Linked DNA regions of Homo sapiens. The protein of the gene in region 2 purifies or fractionates together with the protein of the main gene of each other region. This does not show direct contact. Each region holds a gene or a part of one and is shown on either strand. Other genes may lie near its edges.

What was found.
Region 1: the proteins of DHX30 (region 2) and MCMBP purify together in Homo sapiens (affinity purification with mass spectrometry; 2 studies listed by BioGRID and IntAct, with this or other methods). This does not show direct contact.

The regions. Positions count from the first base shown.
Region 1 is NC_000010.11:119,860,152-119,871,302, forward strand, and holds part of MCMBP (mini-chromosome maintenance complex-binding protein), read right to left. Parts: intron 1-11,151. UniProt on the Homo sapiens protein: Associated component of the MCM complex that acts as a regulator of DNA replication.
Region 2 is NC_000003.12:47,797,957-47,808,980, reverse strand, and holds the start of DHX30 (ATP-dependent RNA helicase DHX30), read right to left. Parts: upstream 5,844-11,024; 5' UTR 5,769-5,843; intron 5,524-5,768; exon of another isoform or gene 5,251-5,523; intron 3,656-5,250; 5' UTR 3,561-3,655; intron 1-3,560.

The DNA.
Region 1 (11,151 bases), on a different chromosome or scaffold from region 2:
CAGTGTAGCTGGGGACACCTACAGAATGTGCTACAAGGCCACCTAGATTCAGCAGCATATGAAGCACTGCTTGTAAAGCATTCTGTTCTTTCAATACATTTTTATGTAGTTTTTTTATCTTTACAACTATCCTGAAATAAAGAGCCTAAGTTTTTTTGTTTATAACTTCATTTGGGAATAATTCCAGATTCAAAAAAGTTGGAAAGAACACCTGTATGCTTTGCCCCATTTGCTCCATCTCATATTTTTTCTGACTCATTTAAGTTGCAGTATCAGGTATTTTTGCCTACAAATATTTCAGCGTGTCTCCTAAGGAACAGTACTAACCATAGTACTGTTATCAACCTCAGGAAATTCAAAATTGGCACAATACTTTTTATTTAATCTACCATCTATATTCCTATTTATCATATGACCCAATACTATCCCCTCTATAGCACTTTTTTCCGTTCAGTTACAGGACCCAGCTTAGGATCACTTTTGCATTTAGCTATCAGATCTCTTTAATCTCCTTTCATATGGAATAGTTCTGCAAACTTTATATTTCATGACATTGCTATTTAAGAAGAATAAGGTCCTTTTTTAAAAATTGAATGCTTCTCAATCTGGATCTGTTGGTTCCCTTATGATCAGATTCCAATCAAGTATAACCGAACTGCTGTTTAAACAATGTTGTCAAACTACTGTATAAGTGATGTTTATCCTTCCAGATGTCTGAAAAGACATGATGTCCATCTTCCCTTCATTGGTGATGTTAATTTTGATCACCCAAAGTGACAGCCAATTACTCTACTGTGTAGTTACTATTTACTCCTTACAATTAACAAGCCATCTACAGCAGGCACTTATGGGAACTGGCCAAGACCAAAAAGTGAGCTATTGACGGAATACAGATTTATGTGAACTAAAACCACCAAACCACACAGCTGGCCAATCCTGCTGTTTATATTCATCACACAAGTGTTATGAAGATTTGGAGTAAAAAATAAAAAGTCTACACTTGTTATGGAGCTGCATCTGTTGAAAAGGACCATAAAATCCTAACACCATGTTTGAGCAGGACTTCCAAACACGTTTACTTAACTGGACAAGGGCCAGTTGTGAAAAAGAAGTAGGGATGGGGGACTCCTCAGGTGATACTAATGTGTAGGCGTTAAATCCACTAACAAACTAGTCCTCAAAGTTGGTTCCCTGACCAGCATCATTAGCATCATCTGAGTACTTGTTAGAAATGCAAATTATTCAGCCCAACCCCGAACCACAGAATCAGAAACTCTTAGGGGTGGGGCCTAGCAATTCATATTTTAAAAAGCCCTCTATGTGACTGACTATAATGCACATTGAAGTTTAAGAATCGCTGCTCTACTAGATACAGTGAATTGGGTAAAAGATAAGTGGGTATTTTCGCTTGTATTCAAAATGGATGTTTAAAGAAAAGACTATTACACAGCCACGACTGCCACACCAACTATTCTGCCTGCAATTGTGTAAAAGACGTGAGAATACCACATAACAAATAGTAAAGCTACATCAAGCAGTGACTGGGGAGCAGCAAGTTATTTCTAAGTTACTTGAATGTATATAAATGCAATTTTCTTTTTTCAGGCAGGGTGTTGTGTTGCTTTGTCACCCAGGATGGAGTACAGTGGTGTGATCCTGGCTCACTGCAACCTTAATTTCCTGGGCTCAAGTGATCCTCTGGCCTCAGTCTCCTGCGTAGCTGGGACCACAGGCACGGGCCACCACGCCTGGCTAATTTTTAAATCTTTTTGTAGAGATGGAGGTCTCCCTATGTTGTCCAGGTTGGTCTGGAACTCCTGGGCTCAAGTGATCGATCCTCCTGCCTCTGCACTTAAAATGAAAAAATCCTCTTGGCTGGGTGCGGTGGCTCACACCTGTAATTCCAGCACTTTGGGAGGCCAAGGCAGGCGGATCACCTGAGGTCAGGAGTTCGAGACAAGTCTGGTCAATATGATGAAACCCCTTTTCTACTAAAAATACAAAAATTAGCTAGGCGTGATGGTGTGCGCCTGTAATCCCAGCTACTTGGGAGGCTGAGGCAGGAGAATCGCTTGAACCTGGGAGGTGGAGGTTGCAGTGGGCCAAGATTGCCCCATTGCACTCCAGCCTGGGCGACTAGAGTGAATCTTCGTCCCCCCCCACACCACCTCCTCCACCACGCAAAAAGAAAAAATTATCAAGACACTGGATTCCTCCAGACTCCATGTGTGTCCTTAGGATCCAACTATGTATCCTTACCATATTGCTGCAATAAATCTTAGGAGGAGTACAACTATACAGTGAATCATATAAGTCCTAGTAAATCTTCAAGCATATGGGTGGTTATAGGACTCCCCAACACATTTGTATATCAATACTTCATTTCTTTTTATTCCTATTATTCCTCTGAATAACAACCAATTTGTTTATGTATTTGCTTGCTGAAGGACATTTAGATTGTCTTCAGGTTTGACAACTATAAACAAAACTATAAAACACGTGTCTGCAGGTTTTCATGTGAACATGAGCTTTCATTTCTCTAGAATGAGTATCTAGATATGACACAGTTGAGTACATGGTAAATGTATGATTAAGATTCTACCTGTCTTCCAGAGTGGCTGCACCATTTTGCTAAGAGATCCAGCTGTTCCCATCCTTGCCAGTACTTAGTACTATCACTATGTATTTTTAAATTTTAGCTGTTCTAATATGCAATATCATGGCTTAAATTTGCATTTCCCTAATGGCTAACAATGCTGAACTCTTCTCAGGGGGATATTTGCCATCCTTGTATCCTATCTGGTGAAATGTCTATTTAAGCCTACTTAAATCTTTTGCCCCTTTTAAAATTGAGTTTTTAAATTACTGCTGTGTTTTCTTATATATTCTGGATTCAAGTTCTTTTTCTGATACCGGATTTTCAAATATATTCTCCCAGTGTATAGCTTGTCTTTTCATGCTCCTAATAGAATTTTTTTTTACAGAACAAAGGTTTTTAATTTTGATGAAGCCCAATTTATCAAATTTTTGTTTTACGCACTGTGCCTTCGGTGTCATGTCTTAAGAACTCATTGCCAAACCCCAGGTCACAAAGATCTGTTTTCTTCTAAAAGTTTTATAGTTTCAGGTTTTATACTCAGATGTATGATCCATTTTGAGTTAATTTTATATAAAATATGAGGTAAAGGTTGAGGATTTTATTTTTCCATGTAAATGTTAAATTGTTCATGTCTTTGATGAAAAGAATATCCTTTTTCCATTTGAATTAGCTTTTGTATCTTTATTAAAATGCAGCGAGGGCCAGGCGGGGTGGCTCACGCCTGTAATCCCAGCACTTTGGGAGGCCGAGGCGGGCGGATCACCTGTCAGGAGTTCAAGACCAGCCTGGCCAACATGGCAAACCCCCGTCTCTACTAAAAATACAAAAATTAGCCGGGCGTGGTGGCACACGCCTGTAATCCCAGCTACTCGGGAGGGTGAGACAGGAGAATTGCTTGAACCCAGGAGGCGGAGGTTTCAGTGAGCTGAGATCGCACCACTGCACTCCAGCCTGGGAGACAGAGTGAGGCTCAGACTCAAAAAAAAAAAAAAAAAAAAAAAAAAAAAAAAAAAAAAGCAACGAAGACACAGGAATAAACCTTGAAAACATTATGCTAAGTGAGATAAGCCAGACGTAAAAGGTGAAATATTATTCTACTTGGGTGAGTTTGGATAGTTTGTGGCTGTGATCAGCAGAATAATGACCCCCTCCCACCCAACCAAGATACTGATGTTCTAATCCCCAGAACTTGTAAAGATATGTTACATAGGAATTAAGGTAGCAGATGGAATTAAGGTTAATAATCAGTTGAACTTAAAAAAAAAAACAATCTGGGTGGGTTCAATGTAATCACAACGGTCCTTAAATGTGGAAGGATGTGGCAAAAGAGGAAGTTAGAGTAAGATGTGAGAACAACTCGACTTGTTGTCTTTGAAAACGGAAGGGGGCCACAAGCCAAGAAATGTGGGCAGACTCTAGATGCAGGAAAAGAAAAGGAACAGATTCTCTCCTAAAGCCTCCACAATGGAATGCAAGTCCTGTCAACAATTTGATTTTATCCCAGTAAGACCCATGTCAGACTTCTGTCTCCAGGACTGTAAATAAAAACCTTTTGTTTTAAAGTCACTACATTTGTAATTTATTACAGGAGAAATAGAAAGCTAATACAGTGGTTTTTGAGGAACTGGTCCATTTCATCTAAGTTGATGAATTTCTATCTGTAGAGCTGTTTGTATTATCCTTTTCATGCCTGTACAGTCTACGGTGGTTATCTCCTCTTTCTTTTCTAATATTGGTAATTTGTCTTCCTTTTTTTCTTTTCTACTATTGGTAATTTGTTTTCCTTTTTTTTTTTCCTTTGCCAGTATGGCTAGAGGTTTACAATTTTATTGATTTTTTTTTTAAAGAGCTTTGAGTTTCACTGATTTTTTCTTTTTTTTCTGTTTTCTATTTCATGGATTTTTGTTCTCTATTATTTCTTTCTTCTGTTTAATTTGGGTTTATTTTGCTCTTCATTTCTAGTTTCATAGGTGGAAGCTTAAATTATTCACTTGAGACCTTCTCTTCTAATTAAGGCAGCTAATGCATCTAAGCATGTCTTTGGCTGTATCCCACAAATTTTGGTATGTTGAGTTTTCATTTTGGTTTAGTTCACAATATTCAAAGCTTTCCTTTGAGAGTTTTTAATCCATGGATTGTTTAGAAGTGTTCTTCTTATATATAAAGTTTACTATTTGGTTTATGACCCAGAATGTGGTTTATCTTGGTGAATTTACATGTGCACTTGAAAAGAATGTGTATTCTGCTGTCATTAGGTAAACAAATGTCAATTAGATCTACTTGGTTGACAGTGTTGTGTAGTTTTGTGTTGTTCAGTATTCTTTTTGATTTTCTACCCACTATTCTGTCAAGTACTGAGAGAGGAGTAGTAAAATATCTAACTACAATTGCAGATTTGCCTATTTCTTCTTTTATTTCTGCTGGTTTTTGCATCATACATTTTGAAGCTCTGTTGCTTGGTGCATATATAGTTAGGTCTTCTTGGTGAACTGACTGTTTTAACATTATATAATGTGCCTCTTGTTCTCTTCTCACACAACCTTTCTTAAAAACATTTTAGGCCAGGCGTAGTGGCTTATGCCCGTAATCCCAGCACTTAGGGAGGCCAAGGCAGGCAGATTACCTGAGATCAGTAGTTTGAGACCAGCCTGGCCAACATGGTGAAACCTCATCTCTACTAAAAATACAAAAGTTAGCTGGGCTTGCTGGTGGTACCTGTAATCCCAGCTACTTGGGAGGCTGAGGCAGGAGAATTGCTTGAACCTGGGAAGTAAAATGGTGCAGCCACTGTGGAAAAGTTTGGCAATTCCTCAAAAAGTTAAATATAAAATTATCATATGACCTTGCAATTCCATCCCTAGGTATATCTGGGAAAGAACCAAAAAGCTTACATTCACACAAAAACTTGTACATGAATGTTTATAGTAGCAGTATTTATAACAGCCAGGAAATAACCTAAGTGTCCATCAGCAAATATATGGATAAACAAAATGCAGTATAGACATACAATGGAATGTTATTTTCAGCCATAAAAAGGAATGCAGACTGGGTACAGTGGCTCACATCTGTAATCCCAGCACTTTGGGAGGCCGAGGCGGGAGGGTCACTTGAGGCCAGGAGTTTGAGTGTAGCCTGGGCAACATAGTGAGACCCCAAATCTACAAAAAATGATTTAAAAATTAGCTGGGTGTGGTAATACAGGTAATACATGCCTGTAGTCCCAGCTACTCAGGAAGCTGAGGCTGCAGGATCACTTGAGACTGGAAGTTCAAGGCTGCGGTGAACCATGATCTTGCCACACAGCATTCCAGCCTGGACGACAGAGCCAGGCTCTATCTCTTAAAAAAAAAAAAAAAAGGAATGCAGTACTGATGCATACTATGACATGGATGAACCATGAAAATATCATGGTAAATGAAAAGAAGCCAGACCTCAAAGGCCACATGTTGTATAATTCCACCTACACGAAACGTCCAGAATAGGTAAATCCATGGGCAGAAGTATAGTTGTTGCCAGAGATGGAAGACAGAAGAAATGGGAGAGACTACTAAAGGTATGGGGTTTCTTTTTGGAGTGATGAAAATGATAGGGGTGGCCGGGCGTGGTGGCTCATGCCTGTAATCCCAACACTTTGGGAGGCCGAGGCGTGTGGATCACCTGAGATCAGGAGTTCAAGAGCAGCCTGACCAACATGGTAAAACTCCGTCTCTACTAAAAATACAAAAATTAGCCAGGAATGGTGGTGCATGCTTGTGATCCCAGCTACTTGGGAGGCTGAGGCAAGAGAATCGCTTGAACCCGGTAAGCAGAGGTTGCAGTGAGCCAAGTTTGCACCACTGCACTCCAGCCTGGGCAACAGAGTGAGACTCCGTCTCAAAAAAAAGAGAAAAAGATAGTGGTGGTGATGGTTGCACAACATCATTATGAATACAGTAAAAAAAATTCAATTGTACATTTTAAAATGTTAAATTTTGTTATGTGAATTTTATTTCAAAGAAAAAAAATTTTTTTGGACCAGCCTGAGCAACATAGTGAAACACCATCTCTACGAAAATACAAAAAGTTAGCTGGGTGTGGTGGCAGGCGCCTGTAGTCCCAACTACTCGGGAGGCTGAGGCAGTAGAACTGCTTGAACCTGGGAGGTAGAGGTTGCAGTGAGCAGAGATCGTGCCACTGCACTCTAGCCTGGGTGACAGAGCGAGACTCTGTCTCAAAGAAAAAAACCTCTAAAAGCAAAAACAGTTAAAAGCGGTTACTTCAGGCAGGGCACGGTGGCTCATGCCTCTAATCCCAGCACTTTGGGAGGCCGAGGGTGGTGGATCACGAGGGCAGAGGAGGTCGAGACCATCCTGGCCAACACGGTGAAGCCCCGACTCTACTAAAAATGCAAAAATTAGCCAGGTGTGGTGGTGGTCGCCTGTAGTCCCAGCTACTCAAGAGGCTGAGGCATGAGAATCGCTTGAACCTGGGAGGGAGAGGTTGCAGTGAGCCGAAATCGCACCACTGCCCTCCAGCCTGGGCGACAGAGCGAGACTCCATCTCAAAAAAAAAAAAAAAAAAAAAAAAAAAAAGTGGTTACTTCAATGGAGGGAGCACGTACTTTCACTCAGTTCATACCATCATGTTGATTTTTTTTAAAACCATGTGTAAGTTATTATAACTTAAAAACTCCTACGTATGCCATCTGCCATGGCTGCCGGAGCTATTCTTCTTCTTTGAGAACGCCCCCAATGTTGAGGTGTGGATAACAGTCACGATTGTCCTACCTAACTCTGTGCCATGGCCACAGATGACTGATCCCTGAGTGAATGGATTCCTGACTCCATGTTGTGCCAATCAGATTTTCTATGCCTGAAAATAAAGATGCTAGCTAGCGTGGGTTGGAACCGAGAACAAGTAAATTTGGGAGACATGGAGTAGAGAAAGAGAAAGTGTGCAGAGATTAATGTATCCCAAGAGAAGAAATACTGAGTTGCTTGGATTCCTGCTAGCTTTCCAGTTCCTGATTCCACTCAGTCTCTTCGAATACCCAACCACTTCCCCTGTTCTTGGGTTTTATAGCCTTAATATAAATTAACTTTTTTCAGTGGCCTACCAAGGACAGAGTGGTAGAAGAGGTCCAAGCTGGGTACAGACAATAAGGGCACAGATTGTCTGTTTAGATTCATGGTGATAATAAAAAGCAGACCAACTAACTTTTAGTTCATTTTATTATTGCTTTAAATTCTCTAAAATGCTAGTGATAAAATAGTCTGCTCTGCCCCTCTTCACCCAACCCTGCTCTTTTTTGCATGAGCTAGTCTAGTTCTGTTAGATACAACCAAAGAAGCTTAAATATAACGAGAATAATGATCTTGGTCTAACCAATAGTTGAAGGGAAAACAGCTAAAGAGGCTGGGCGCAGCAGCTCACACCTGAGATCTCAGCACTCTGGGAGGCCAAGTGGGGGCAGATCACTTGAGGCCAGGAGTTCAAGACCAGCCTGGCCAACATGGCAAAACCCTGTCTCTATTAAAAATAGAAAAATTAGCCAGGCATGGTGGTGCACACTTTTAATCCCAGCTACTCGAGAGGCTGAGGCATGAGAATGGCTTGAACCCAGAAGGCGGAGGTTGCAGTGAGCCGAGATCACGCCACTGCACTCCACCCTGGGCAACAGAGCAAGACACTGACTCCAGAAAAAAAGAAAAGAAAAATTTTGAGATTTGTGATCTCACTAGCCATTTCAATTAACAACATTTCTGATTAATCAGTCTTTTCACTGCTTTTGTTCAACAAGTGTCCACTGAGCACTTTCAATGTACAAGGCAAATTCTAAGAAATTAGGATACAGTGGTGAATAATGCAGATACAGGGGCCCTGAATTCGCGGGGTCAAAATCCAGCAAAGGAACTTCCGAAACAAGGAATTTCAACAATGCACTTTACACACTATTTTTCAAAGACATATATAATAGGATCCTGCAGTAACATGGAGCAGGGGTACCCTACTTTGGTACCTAACTTAAGTTCCCAAAGGAAAAGTAAGACTTAGCCAGAAAAGTGGACATGGGATGGGAGGGGGAATCAGGCACAAGAAATCAGCAGATGCAAAAAGGCCTAGACACAGGTTCAAAATTAAAGAACTGAAAAAAGGTTCAGTGCGGCTGGGATGGAGTATGAGGAGGGGGTACGCAGTGATAAAGTCTCAGAGCAAGGCAAGGGTGGAGCCAACAAGGGCCTCATAAACCACTTTAAAAGTCCTGGATCAGATAGTAAGGGTAACAAGAAGTCACTGAAGGACTTGGTTCCAGTATGGCAGGTGGAAGAGAAGCAAGACTGGAGGCAAGAAACCAGTTAGAGGGCTGTTCCAGCGTCCAGGAAAGAGACTACGATGGCTTTAATTTTGACAGTAGCATTGGAGATGAGGGTCTGGGTCGGGCGCGGTGGCTCACGCCTATAATCCCAGCACTTTGAGAGGCCGAGGCAGGCAGATCACCTGTTCGAGACCAGCCTTGCTAACATGGTGAAATCCTGTCTCTACTAAAAATACAAAAATTAGCGGCTCGGTGTGGTGGCTCACGCCTACAATCCCAGCACTTTGGGAGGCCAAGGTGGGCGGATCACTAGGTCAGGAGTTCAAGACCAGCCTGGCCAACATGGTGAAACCCTGTCTTTACTAAAAATACAAAAATTAGCTGGGCATGGTGGCATGCACCTGTAATCCCAGCTACTCAGGGGGCTGAGGCAGGAGAATCACTTGAACCCAAGAGGCAGAGGCTGCAGTGAGCCAAGATTGTAACACTGCGCCCTAGCCTGAGTGACAGAGCAAGACTCAGTCTCAAAAAAAAAAAAATTAGCTGGGCATGGTGGCAGGCACTTGTAATCCCAGCTACTCCAGAGGCTGAGGCAGAATTGCTTGAACCTGGGAGGAGGAGGTTGCAGTGAGCCGAGATCACACTGTTGCACTCCAGCCTGGGTGACAAGAACGAAACTCCATCTCAAAAACAAAAAAAGCAAAAACAAAAACAAAACCCCTAGAACGGATAAGATACAGTGACCAAATTCAGATCCTGAAAGAGAGTCAGTGAGTAGCTGGTTATCCAAAAAAACTAGCATCACATACTAAAAAGCGGTGTCCTCTAGATCAGTGCTGTACAGAGAACTTCCTGATGTTAGGAATATGCTAGATCTGTGCTAATATAATAGCCCCTATCCACATGTAGCTACTGAGCACTTGAAATGTGCTAACACCGAGGAGGTGAATTTTTAATTTTGTGTAATTTTAATTAATTTACATTTAAATAGCCACACATGGCTACTGCCCTGGACAGCACACTCTAGATTATTGTGACACCTAACTTAAAATATATGACAGGGTTAATAAGTTTATACAATACTATATGACAAGGACAGTAAGAAAGGGAAAAATTCAGGCTGCTGGATGCAGTGGCTCACGCCTGTAATCCCAGCACTTTGAGAGGCCGAGGCGGGCGGATCACGAGGTCAAGAGATCTAGACCATCCTGGCCAACACTGTGAAACCCCGTCTCTACTAAAAATACAAAAATTAGCCGGGCGTGGTGGCGCGGGCCTATAGTCTCAGCTACTCCGGAGGCTGGGGCAGGAGAATCGCTTCAACCCAGGAGGCGGAGGTTGCAGTGAGCCGAGATTGCGCTACTGCACTCCAGCCTGGGTGACAGTGCGAGACTGTCTCAAAAAAAAAAAATGCATATTTCAAAATAAAATACACAACAAAACTTAACTTTTCAGTTTAAAAAAACTGTCTAAATATATGCAGAGAAAATAAACTACACAACCACGAACCAGTGGTTATCTTGAAGGTGAAGGATCTTCAAAGATCTTTCCTTTTCTGCTATATGTTGCTGAACTGCTTTTTTCTTTCTGTACAATGCATATGCATTACCTATCTGGGGGGAAAACAATTTCCTACTAAACCAAAAAGTGCCTATAAGTTATCACACAAACATACTTGTAATGCTGTTATAATAAAGATATGCAATACAATCACAGTGATACGAAAATATAGCAACAGCTTCTACGAACACATTATGACTTTTCTATAAGACACAACGTACACGGGAACAAGACATTCTGGGGAGAAACACATCAAGAAACTTCTCAGGTTCCCACAACAATCCACATAATTTATAAAATACTCTGAAGCTATTATTTTATATCTAAGTTACATCCTTCCTGTACTATGATGAGATGTGTCCCTTAGGATCATACATTTAGAAGACAAAATTTGACACAAATACATTCAAATCTCTATCAAATATGAAATCATCTCATTTATCCAGCAAAATCAGAGTATGGGGTATTTCTAATAAATAAACTTTCTAATATTAGTAACTGAAATTTAACCCTTTAAGCACCAAACCTTTTTACTTTGGAGGGATTTTTCCTAAAAAGTATCTATGCATCTGCACCCTCTTAAACCAATGCTACAATTGAATCTTCACTTGACATTTTGGGGCCATTGTGTTGACCATCGATTATCATTTCTAGAATTCTTATGAACATAAATTACTAGGATTTAGTGGAGAAATAT
Region 2 (11,024 bases):
GGAAGCAGAGGTTGCAGTGAGCCGAGATCGCACCATTGCACTCCAGCCTGGGCAACAAGAGTGAGACTCTGTCTCAAAAAAAACAAAAACAAAAAACAAAACTCGGCTGGTTGCAGTGGCTCATGCCTGTAATCCCAGCACTTTGGGAGGCTGAGGTGGGCGGATCACCCTGAGGTCAGAAGTTCGAGACCAGCCTGGCCAACATGAGGAAACCTCGCCCCCAGTAAAAATACAAAAATTAGCCAGCTGTGGTGGCGCATGCCTGTAATCCCAGCTACTCAGGGGACTGAGGCAGGAGAATCGCTTGAACCCGAGAAGCGGAGGTTGCAGTGAGCCAAGATCACACCTCTGCACTCCAGCCTGGGCAACAGAGCGAGACTCCATCTCAAAAAAATAAAAATAAAAAATAAATTTAAGAAAAAAAAAAAAGAAACAATACTCTATTGCTACGAAATGGTAAACTGGCTAGGCACAGTGGTTCACACCTGTAATCCCAGCGCTTTGGGAGGCTGAGATGAGAGGAGCACTTGAGACCAGGAGTTCAAGACCAGCCTGGGCAACATAGTGAGACCGCATCTCTAAAAAAAATTTTCAGAATTAGCCAGGTGTGGTGGTACATGCTTGCAGTCTTAGCTACTCAGGAGGCTGAGGCAGGAGGATCACTTCGCCCAGGATTTTGAGGTTTACAGTGAGCTGTGATCACGCCACTGCACTCCAGTCTGGGTGACAAAGCAAGACCCTGTCTCTCTTAAAAAAAAAAAACAAAAAGTAAGGCGGGTGCAGTGGCTCATGCCTGTAATCCCAGCATTTTGGGAGGCCGAGGCAAGCAGATCACCTGAGGTCGGGAGTTTGAGACCAGCCTGACCAACATGCAGAAACCCCGTCTCTACTAAAAATACAAAATTAGCCGGACGTGGTGGTGCATGCCTGTAATCCCAACTACGTGGGAGGCTGAGGCAGGAGAATCACTTGAACCCAGGAGGTGGACGTTCCAGTGAGATGAGATTGCGCCACTGCACTGCAGGCTGGGCAACAAGAGCGAAACTCTGTCTCAAAAAAATTTAAAAAAAAAAAGCAAAATTTAATGGCTAGGTGGGGTGGCTCATGCCTGTAGTCCCAGCACTTTGGGACGCCCAGGTGAAGGATCGCTTGAGGCCAGGAGTTCAAGACCAGCCTAGGCAACACAGTGAGACCCTGCCTCTAAAAAAAAAATTTGTAAGTTAATTTGCTTGCAAATAGACTCTTGATTTTGCTTTTTTTTTTTTTTTTTTTTTTTTGAGACAGAGTCTCGCTCTGTCACCAGGTTGGAGGGCAATGGCGTAATATCAGCTTACTGCAACCTCCACCTCCCGGGTTCAAGCTATTCTCCTGTCTCAGCCTTCCAAGTAGCTGGGACTACAGGCACACGCCACCATGCACGGCTAAATTTTTTTGGATTTTTAGTAGAGATGGGCTTTCATCATGTTGGCCAGGATGGTCTCGATCTCTTGGCCTCATGATCTGCCTGCCTCGGCCTCCCAAAGTGCTGGGATTACAGGCATGAGCCACCGTGCCCGGCCAGTTTTGCTTTTTAAAAGTCCCTAAACCTCTAGCCCAATATGTCAATTTAGGCTCATGTACCATTCTTTTTCCTGTACTAATCTAAAAAAACGATACTATGAGAATCAAGACAGGATCTTTTAGAGACAGAATTTACAGAGCTCTAGAACATTTCATAGAGATCCAAAAGAAAGCGGTCTTCCTTGTAATGCAGTCAGTAATGGTGTTTTGTTTTGAGACAGAGTGTTGCTCTTGTTGCCCAGGCTGGAGTGCAATGGCATGATCTCTGCTCACTACAACCTCCACCTCCCGGATTCAAATGATTCTCCTGTCTCAGTCTCCCTAGTAGCTGGGATTACAGGCACCCGCCACCACGCCTGGCTAATTTTTGTATTTTTGGTAGAGACAGTGTTTCACCATGTTGGCCAGGCTGGACTCGAACTCCTGACCTTGTGATCCGCCCGCCTCAGCCTCCCAAAGTGCTGGGATTACAGGCATCAGCCACCACGACCGGCCATAATGCAGTAATGTTTAAAAATCTTTGTAGTGGGCCAGGCTTGGTGGCTCACGCCTGTAATCCCATCACTTTGGGAGGCTGAGGCAGGCAGATTGCCTGAGGTCAGGAGTTCGAGCCCATTCTGGCCAAGATGGTGAAATCCTGTCTCTACTAAAAATACAAAAAAAATTGGCCAGGCACGCCTGAGCGCAGTGGCTCACTCCTGTAATCCCAGCACTTTGGGAGGCCGAAGCAGGTGGATCACAAAGTCAGGAGTTCGAGACCAGCACGGCCAACATGGTAAAACCCCATCTTCACTAAAAATACAAAAAATTAGCCAGGCGTGGTGGTGCACGCCTGTAGTCCCAGCTACTCAGGAGGCTGAGACAGAAGAATCGCTTGAACCCGGGAGGCGGAGGTTGCAGTGAGCCAAGATTGCACCACTGTACTCCAGCCTGGGTGACAGAGTGAGACTCCATCTCAGAAAAAAAAAAGAAAAAAATTGGCCAGGCACGGTGGCTCACACCTGTAATCCCAGCACTTTCGGAGGCAGAGGCAGGCAGATCACAAGGTCAGGAGTTTGAGGTTAGCCTGACCAAAATGGTGAAACCCCATCTCTACTAAAAATACAAAAATAAGCCAGGCGTGGTGGTGCGCACCTGTAATCCCAGCTACTCAGGAGGCTGAGGCAGGAGAATCGCTTGAACCCAGGAGGCAGAGGTTGCAGTGAGCCAAGATCCCACCACTGCACTCCAACCTGGGCAACAGAGTGAGACTCCCATCTAAAAAAAAAAAAAAAAATACAAAAAAATTAGCCGGGCTTGGTGGCATGAGGCTGAGGCAGGGGAATTGCTTGAACTAAGGAGGTGGAGGTTGCAGTGAGCCAAGATTGCACCACTGCACTCCAGCCTGGGCGACAGGGCAAGACTGTCTCAAAAACAAAAAACCTTGTAGCTCAATGTGTCTCTTAAGTAATTTACAGATAAGTAAAATGCTATTATATCAAGATTTCCTGCATAATGAAATACAATTTAACTCCAGGTAGAGTCACTTGGGGATGGTTCCAGGACAGAGACTCCACAATGACTAAAAATGATACCCTTCTGGCTGGGCACAGTGGCTCATGCCTGTAATCCCAGCACTTTGGGAGGCTGAGGCAGGCTGATCACCTGACGTCAGGGGTTTGAGACCAGCCTGGCCAACATGGTGAAACCCAGTCTCTACTAAAAATACAAAACAATCAGCTGGGCATGGTGGCAGGCGCCTGTAATCTCAGCTACTTGGGAGGCTGAGACAGGAGAATTGCTTGAACCTGGGAGGCAGAGGTTGCAGCAAGCCAAGATCGCGCCACTGCACTCCAGCCTGGGGGACAAAGCGAGACTCTGTCTCAAAAATAAAACAAAATAAAATAAATGATATCCTTCTTCCAAAATGGTCAGAAATAGGTTTAACACATACCTCTTGTTTTACAGTACAGCTGAGCATCAGATCCACCACTGCTCTGTGCACGGCTAAATCAACTTACCTTATAAAAGCAATGACAGTCTCAGATTTTGTAGGCTTTTGAACTGGAGCTGAATTCTCTCCTTGCTATTCCTCATCACGAGGCTGGGCCTCCTCCTGAGAAGTACAACGCTGAGTCAATACAGTGGAGGCCCCATAGGGAAAGAAAGTTGCTCCAACCATCATTTACTAGCTCTAACAAGGACAAATTTTGTTAGTGGCATGAAGGGCACATACTGGACAAAATGGCCTTACAAATCAGGACTTACCATGACCCATTCTAGGCCCATTAAATTGTAAGCTGTCCTACACCAGCACCTGTAGAAGTGCTGAAGTCTTCTGACATCATCTAAGAAGATGTCAAGGTAAAGAAAGCCTTGTAAGCCTGAAAAGCATTTTCTGGAAGCCCAGAGCAAAACCTACTTCCACTTTGAGTTCTAATCCCATAATAATTATGATAATCTAACATAAAGAAGCTATAATACTCTTCAAGATTGGGAAAATAACAATAACTCAAAGTTGAATACCATTTTTACAGTTCACAACATACTTCCATAGACTTTACCCCATTTAATCCAGGCAACTATCCAGTGAGGTAGGAATTATCTTTCCAGAGAAGAAAACTGAAGCACAGGTTACACAACCTGCCCAAGATCCCATAGCTGCCTCAGGGCAGATGGAAATCAGCATTGAAGCATGCTGACTCCAAAACCCTCCATGCTTATACTAGGCTAATTTTCTTATTTCCAGGATATTATGCTGTTGCCTAAATGTACTACGGTTCATTCCTTGAGACATATTATACTGTTATCTTCAAAGGCTGAAAGGGGCAAGAAAGGTCCAACAGCTAATAAAACTTGTGTGTGGTTTTTGTTTTGTTTTGTTTTGAGAAGGAGTTTCGCTCTTGTTGCCCAGGCTGGGGTGAAATGGCGCGATCTTGGCTCACTGCAACCTCGGCCTCCTGGGTTCAAGCAATTCTCTTGCCTCAGCCTCCCAAGTAGCTAGGGTTACAGGCGCACGCCACCATGCCCGGCTAATTTTTGTATTTTTAGTAGAAACGAGGTCTAGCCATGTTGGCCAGGCTGGTCTCAAACTTCTGACCTCAGGTGATCCACCCGCCTCGGCCTCCCAAAGTGCTGGGATTACAGGCGTGAGACACCGCTCCCGGCCCTAATAAAACTTTGTATCACAGCTACATAAATTAAAACACTTGAAGAGCAACTATCTTTTAGGGATAAAGAGCCAACACCGGTAGAAAACGCAGCAAAGGATGTAGTTTCTGCACATCGCCTTAAATCTCTAAGATTTAAGTGTAAATTACAAGATGTAGTTAAAACCCACAATGACAGTGGGGTTACCACCTTGCAAGAAACTTCAAGGGAAATCACCAGACAACGTCTCATTTCACTCTGGCCCATAAGCTGCAACTAAAACCAGGTTGAAAGCCTGTAAGTGGCCTTCTGCAGTCTACCTGCTAGTGTATGGCAAACCCTCATGGAGTGGGGTTGTAAAGTGAAACAGCCTCTGCCTTGAAAAATCATAATTCAAGTGACCAATGTTGCTACACAACGACTAGATATGCCATATCCCTGGCTTAGGGTTTCTGAGGACCCCTGGGACTCCAGTTCACTGCAAACAAAGGACCCAACATGCATTTGGTCTTCCCCTGCTAAATGGGACAAGTTACCACCAGCAAACAAAGAATACCTCACCCCTTGGCCTCCCCCAGTGACAAGGTCGGTGCAAAAGGGGGCAAACTAGGGGGGCCAGAAGGCACCGGGCCTCCCTCTGGACGAACGGTCCGGGCAGCACCGGGAAGGAGGAGAAGTAGACAAAGGTCTCGGGGCACTCAGGAGGCTTCCTCCAGGCCCTGCCTGGGGAAACGGCGCATCCCGAGGCGAAGGCGTCGTTGCGCCAATGAAGCGGCCTCTCCCACGGCCTCCGCGGAGCCCCTGGCTGCGAGGCCCGCCCCGGCGGACCGGTCTGGCCCCCGCCCCCGCCCGGGCTCCATGGCAACGGCAGGCCGAGGCCTGGCTGCCCACGGATCGGCCGGGCCGGCTTCCCGGGCAGGCCTAGGATGCCCGGCCTGCTCCTCGGGCCCGCCGGCGTCTCCGCCCCACTCTCCGCCAGGCTGGCGGTCGGACCGGGCCCCCTCCTCACGACGACCACCCCCGGCCGCGGCAGGCTCCTCAAGAGGGCACGAAAGGGGAGAATAAAAAGCCCAATTCACCTGTTGTTACAGATGTGAAACAAGCCTCTGTGCACCGCGCATGAGCCGCGGCTCCCCCAACCACGGCCGGACTACAACTCCCAGCAGCGGCGGCGCGGCCCCTTCCGAGTCCCGTGGCGGAAGTCCCGCCACCGGCCCGGCGTTCCCCACCCGGCGTCACGGAGCCCGCCTGCGGCGCACGGCTCCGCTCCCCCGCGGGCCTGGAGCCCGGCCCCACCTGGGACTCGTCGTAGCCGCTCGGGGCACCCAGCGCCCGGGATGCCCCAGCACCCGGCCCAATGGGGCGCGGCGGCGGTGCAGGCGGGACTTCCGGCGGAGTCGCGAAGGGGACGGGTTGGCGCCGGCTGCTCTGGGGTCGCAGAGCGAGCGGGTTTGGGTGGCGGGGTCGGGCGTCAAGTTGCTGCCTTTCTCGGCGACTTAGCTGCCTGCAGTGTGAAAGCGGGAAGGGTCTTCTCGCCCTCTGCGAGCCACCCGCGCCTCCTGATGCGAATAAACAGCCCGGGTCATGGCTGAGCGGGGAACGGTTTCCAGCTCGGGCTCCGGGATTCCACCCGCCTTCCCCGCCACAGCTCGTAGCCACGCCTCTTCTCTTCCCCATCTCCCCTCTAATCTGTTTTTTTAGGGAGGTGAGCATTTTTGTCTTGTCTCCCCAGTTTGCAGGGAAGATGAAATCAACGTGTTGGTTCGTTGATTTCGTAAACTGTACAACGTTAGGCAAAGGACAAGGTGGCACTTGCTGGTCGCGGGGAGAGTGCCAGTCATAGTTGCTGGAAATCTGGAGGTCCGCCCGGCCACATCACCTCTTAGGAATGAGAAAGGGGATTGTCCCAATTACACGCTGTAGTCCTCTAGATAAGGTTCAAGTATAGGTTCAGTGGAATTCAGCTTCAAAAGGAAACAACGCAGTGGCGTAGCTCTGAAGCTGGGTCAGGATTTTACAGAGTATGGTTTTAAGATGTGGCCTTTAGGCCGGGCGTGGTGGCTCACGCCTGTAATCCCAGCACTTTGGGAGGCCAAGGCGGGTGGATCACCTGCGGTCAGGAGTTCAAAACCAGCCTGGCCAACATGGTGAAACCCCGTCTCAACTAAAAATGCAAAAAAATTAGCTGGGCGTGGTGGCGGGCGCATATAATCCTAGCTACTTCGGGAGGCTGAGGCAGGAGAATCACTTGAACCCGGGAGGCGGATGTTGCAGTAAGCCGAGATCGTGTCATTGAACTCCAGCCTGGGCGACAAGAATGAAACTTAAAAAAAAAAAAAAAAAAAGATGTGACCTTTGAGGCTGTATGAAGAATTAGTGCCATATCCCGTCACTTTTGTGTGCAAACAGTTCAACATGTATCTCTTTTCTTTCTCTCTACATTGGCTAGAAGACCGGGGTGTGGGGGTGGAACATCATTTATTCATTCAAATAATTAGTGCATCTGAACAGGGCATGGTGCTGTGTTGTGTGGAGAATAGAGAGATCCCTGCACGGACATCTGAGTGCTCTGTGTATCAGTTGCTAAGCTGGTGTGGAGGCTACAAAGGCCCTGCCTCAAGGGACTTAGAGCCTAGTAGAGAAGATGACAACATTGTGTGAAGGAAATGGAAAGTGGTAAATGCTGGAAAGGAGGTATTAGGTACTCCAAGAGTTCAGAGAAAGGAGTGGTTACTCCTGAATGGCAAAATGAAAGGAACGTGAACAAAGACATACGAGTGGAACAAGGGACAAATCCTAGGAATATTCAGTAGTTCAGTGTGACCACAGGGTTGGATGTGTGTGCAAGCTTTACAGGAAATAGAACTGAAAAACTGTTGGGGAGTGCCATACTAAGGAATTTTTACTTTTTTTGGTAAGACATTTAAAAAATTATTAGGAGAGTAAAATACTGCACTTTTTTGTTGTTGTTGAGACAGAGTCTCTACTCAGTCACCCAGGCTGGAGTGCAGTGGGGTGGTTGCGGCTCACTGCAACCTCTACCTCCCACGTTCAAGCGATTCTCCTGCCTCAGCCTCCCAAGTAGCTGGAATTACAGGTGTGCACTACCATGCCCAGCTCATTTTTGTATTTTTACTAGGGATGGTTTCACCATGTTGGCCAGGCTGGCCTCGAACTCTTGGCCTCAAGTGGTCCACACACTTTGGCCTCCCAAAGTGTTGGGATTACAGGCGTGAGCCACCACGCTGGGCCAATACTGTAATTTAGAAAGCTTCCTCTGGAAGTGAAAGGGTTGAATCAGCTGGGAAAATAGAAACTAGCATGCTAATTAGATCCCGAGAGAGAATGAAAGATTTAACTCAACAGTGAGAAAAGCAAGAAAGAAAAAAAAGGGGGGGTGACTGTTGAGCAGCAGACTGAGCCCAGGCCACAAGTGTGTGGAGAGATGACTTTGAGATCTGTACCATAGTGACTGAAAGGATTATGTACTATTAACATAATTAAGGGACACAAGAGTTGGAAAAGATGATGGATTCAGCTTCACTCAGATTATGTTTGCAATGTTGTTGGGAAAGTTAAGTGATAAAGTCGTGGTCCCTGCTCCAAAGAAAGTTATAGTCTGGTAGAGAGGATGAGAATAGCATGCAAATGTCTTTTTTTTGTTGTTTTTTTTTTGAGACAGGGTCTCACTCTGTCACCCAGGCTGGAGTGCAGTGGCACCATCATGGCTTATTGCAGCCTTAACCTCCCAGGCTCAATTAATCCTCCCTCCTCAGTTTCCTGAGTAGCTGGGACTACAGGCACATGCCACCACGCCCAGATAATTTTTTATTTTTTGTAGAGAAAGGGTCTCACTATGATACCCTAGGTTGACCTCAAACTCCTGGCCTCAAGCGATCCTCCCACTTCAGCCTCCCAAACTCCTGAGATTACAGGTGTGACCCACTATGCCCAGCCACAAATAAATCAAGACCTAAGGCCAGGTGTGGTGGCTCATGCCTGTAATCCCAGCACTTTGGAGGCCCAGGCAGGCGGGTCACCTGAGGTCAGGAGTTCAAGACCAGCCTGACCAACATGGAGAAACCCCATCTCTACTAAAAATACACAATTAATCGGGCATGGTGGCACATGCCTGTAATCCCAGTTACTCGGGAGGCTGAGGCAGGAGAATCACTTGAACCCAAGAGGCGGAGGTTGCAGTGAGCCAAGATCATGCCATTGCACTCAGCCTGGGCAACAAGTGCGAAACTCCATCTCAAAACAAACAAACAAACAAACAAAAAAACAAAAATTCAAGACCAAGTGGATGCACTCCAAAAGAGGCTCCTGTAGGCCAGTAGGGGGCAAAATACTTGAATAGACATCTCCCACAGGCACAGTGGCTCAAGCCTGAAATCCCAGCCCTTCAGGAGGCTGAGATGGGCAGGTCAGTTGAGCCCAGGAATTTGAGATCAGCCTGGGCAACAAGGCGAGACTCCTCTCTACAAAAATACTAAAAGTAGCTGGGTTTGGTGACATGCGCCTGTAGTCCCAGCTGCTCAGGAGGATAACATGGGAGGATCGGCCAGACGTGGTGGCTCATGCCTGTAATCCCAGCACTTTGGGAAGCCAAGGCAGGCGAATCACAAGATCAGGAGTTCGAGACCAGCCTGACCAACATGGTGAAACCCTGTCTCTACTAAAATACAAAAATTAGCCGGGCGTGGTGGCACATGCCTGTAATCCCAGCTGTTCAGGAGGCTGAGGCAGGAGAATCGCTTGAACCTGCGAGGTAGAGTTTGCAGTGAGCCGAGATCACGCCATTGCACTCTAACCTGGGCAACGGAGCGAGACTCCGTCTCAAAAAAAGAAAAAAAAAAAAGTTGGGAGGATCAATTGAATTGGGAAGATGAAGGTTGCAGTGAGCTGAGATCACACCACCGCACTCCAGAATGGGCGACAGAGTGAGACCCTGTCTCATAAAAAAAAAAAAAAGAAAAGGCCAGGCGCAGTAGCTCACACCTGTAATCTCAGCACTTTGGGAGGCCGAGGTGGGTGGATCACCTGAGGTCAGGAGTTTGAGACCAGCCTGGCCAACATGGGGAAACCCGAACTCTACTAAAAATACGAAAATAAGCCGGGCGTGGTGGCTCACGCTCGTGATCCCAGCTACTCGAGAAGCTGAGGCAGGAGAATCACTGGAACCTGGGAGGCAGAGGTTGCAGTAAGCTGATATCGCAACACTGCACTCCAGCCTGGGTGACAGAGTGAGACTACGTCTCAAAAAAAAAAAAAAAGGAAAGGAAGAAAATTTTTGCCCAGAGCAGTAGTTCATGCCTGTAATCCCAGCCTTTGGGAGGCTGAGTCCTGCAGATTGCTTGAGCCCAGGAGTTCGAGACCAGTCTGAGCAACAATGGTAAGACCCCATCTATACAAAAAATTGAAAAAATTTATCCAGGCATTGTGGTACATACCTGTAGTCTCAGCTACTCAGGAAGCTGAGGTAGGAAAATTGCCTGAGCCCAGGAGGTCGAGGCTGCAGTAAACTGTGATCCTGCCATTGCACTCCGGCCTGGGTGACAGAGCAAGACAGCCACCTTTAACTCTGTCTTTAACATGGCTGTTTTTCTGTGTGTGCAAAGAGAAGGGTCTCTGGTGACCCTTCCCCTACTTATAAAGACACAGTCCTATCTGATTGGGGGCCTGCCCTTATGTCCACATGTAACCTTAACTACCTCTCTAAAGGCCCTATTTCCAAATGCAGTCACAGTTGAGGGTTAGGGCTTCAGTATATGAATTTTGAAGGACACAATTCAGTCCGTGACATCAATTTAATGAAATAATATGCAGCAATCAAAAAGAATGAGTTAGGACAGGTGTGGTGGCTCACGCTTGGAATCCCGGCACTGGGAGGCTGAGGCGGGCGGATCACTTAAGGTCAAGAAGAGTTCGAGACCAGCCTGGCCAACGTGGTGAAACCCCATCGCTACTAAAAATATAAAAATTAGCTGGGCGTGGTGGTGGGCGCCTGTAATCCCAGCTACTTGGGAGGCTGAGGCAGGAGAATTGCTTGAACCCAGGAGGCGGAGGTTGCTACGAGCGGAGATTACGCCACTGCACTCCAACTTGGGTGACAGAGTGAGACTGTCTCAAAAAAAAAAAAAAAGAACAAGTTAGATCAAATGTACAGACATGGAAAAATTTGAAGGAAATATTGGGGTTTTTTTGTTTGGATTTTTTGAAACAGTGTCTTGCTCCATCGCCCAGACTAGAATGCAGCGGCGCGGCGCAATCATAGATCACTGCAGCCTCAAGCTCCTGGGCTAAAGTAGTCCTCCCACTTCAGTAATCAGAAT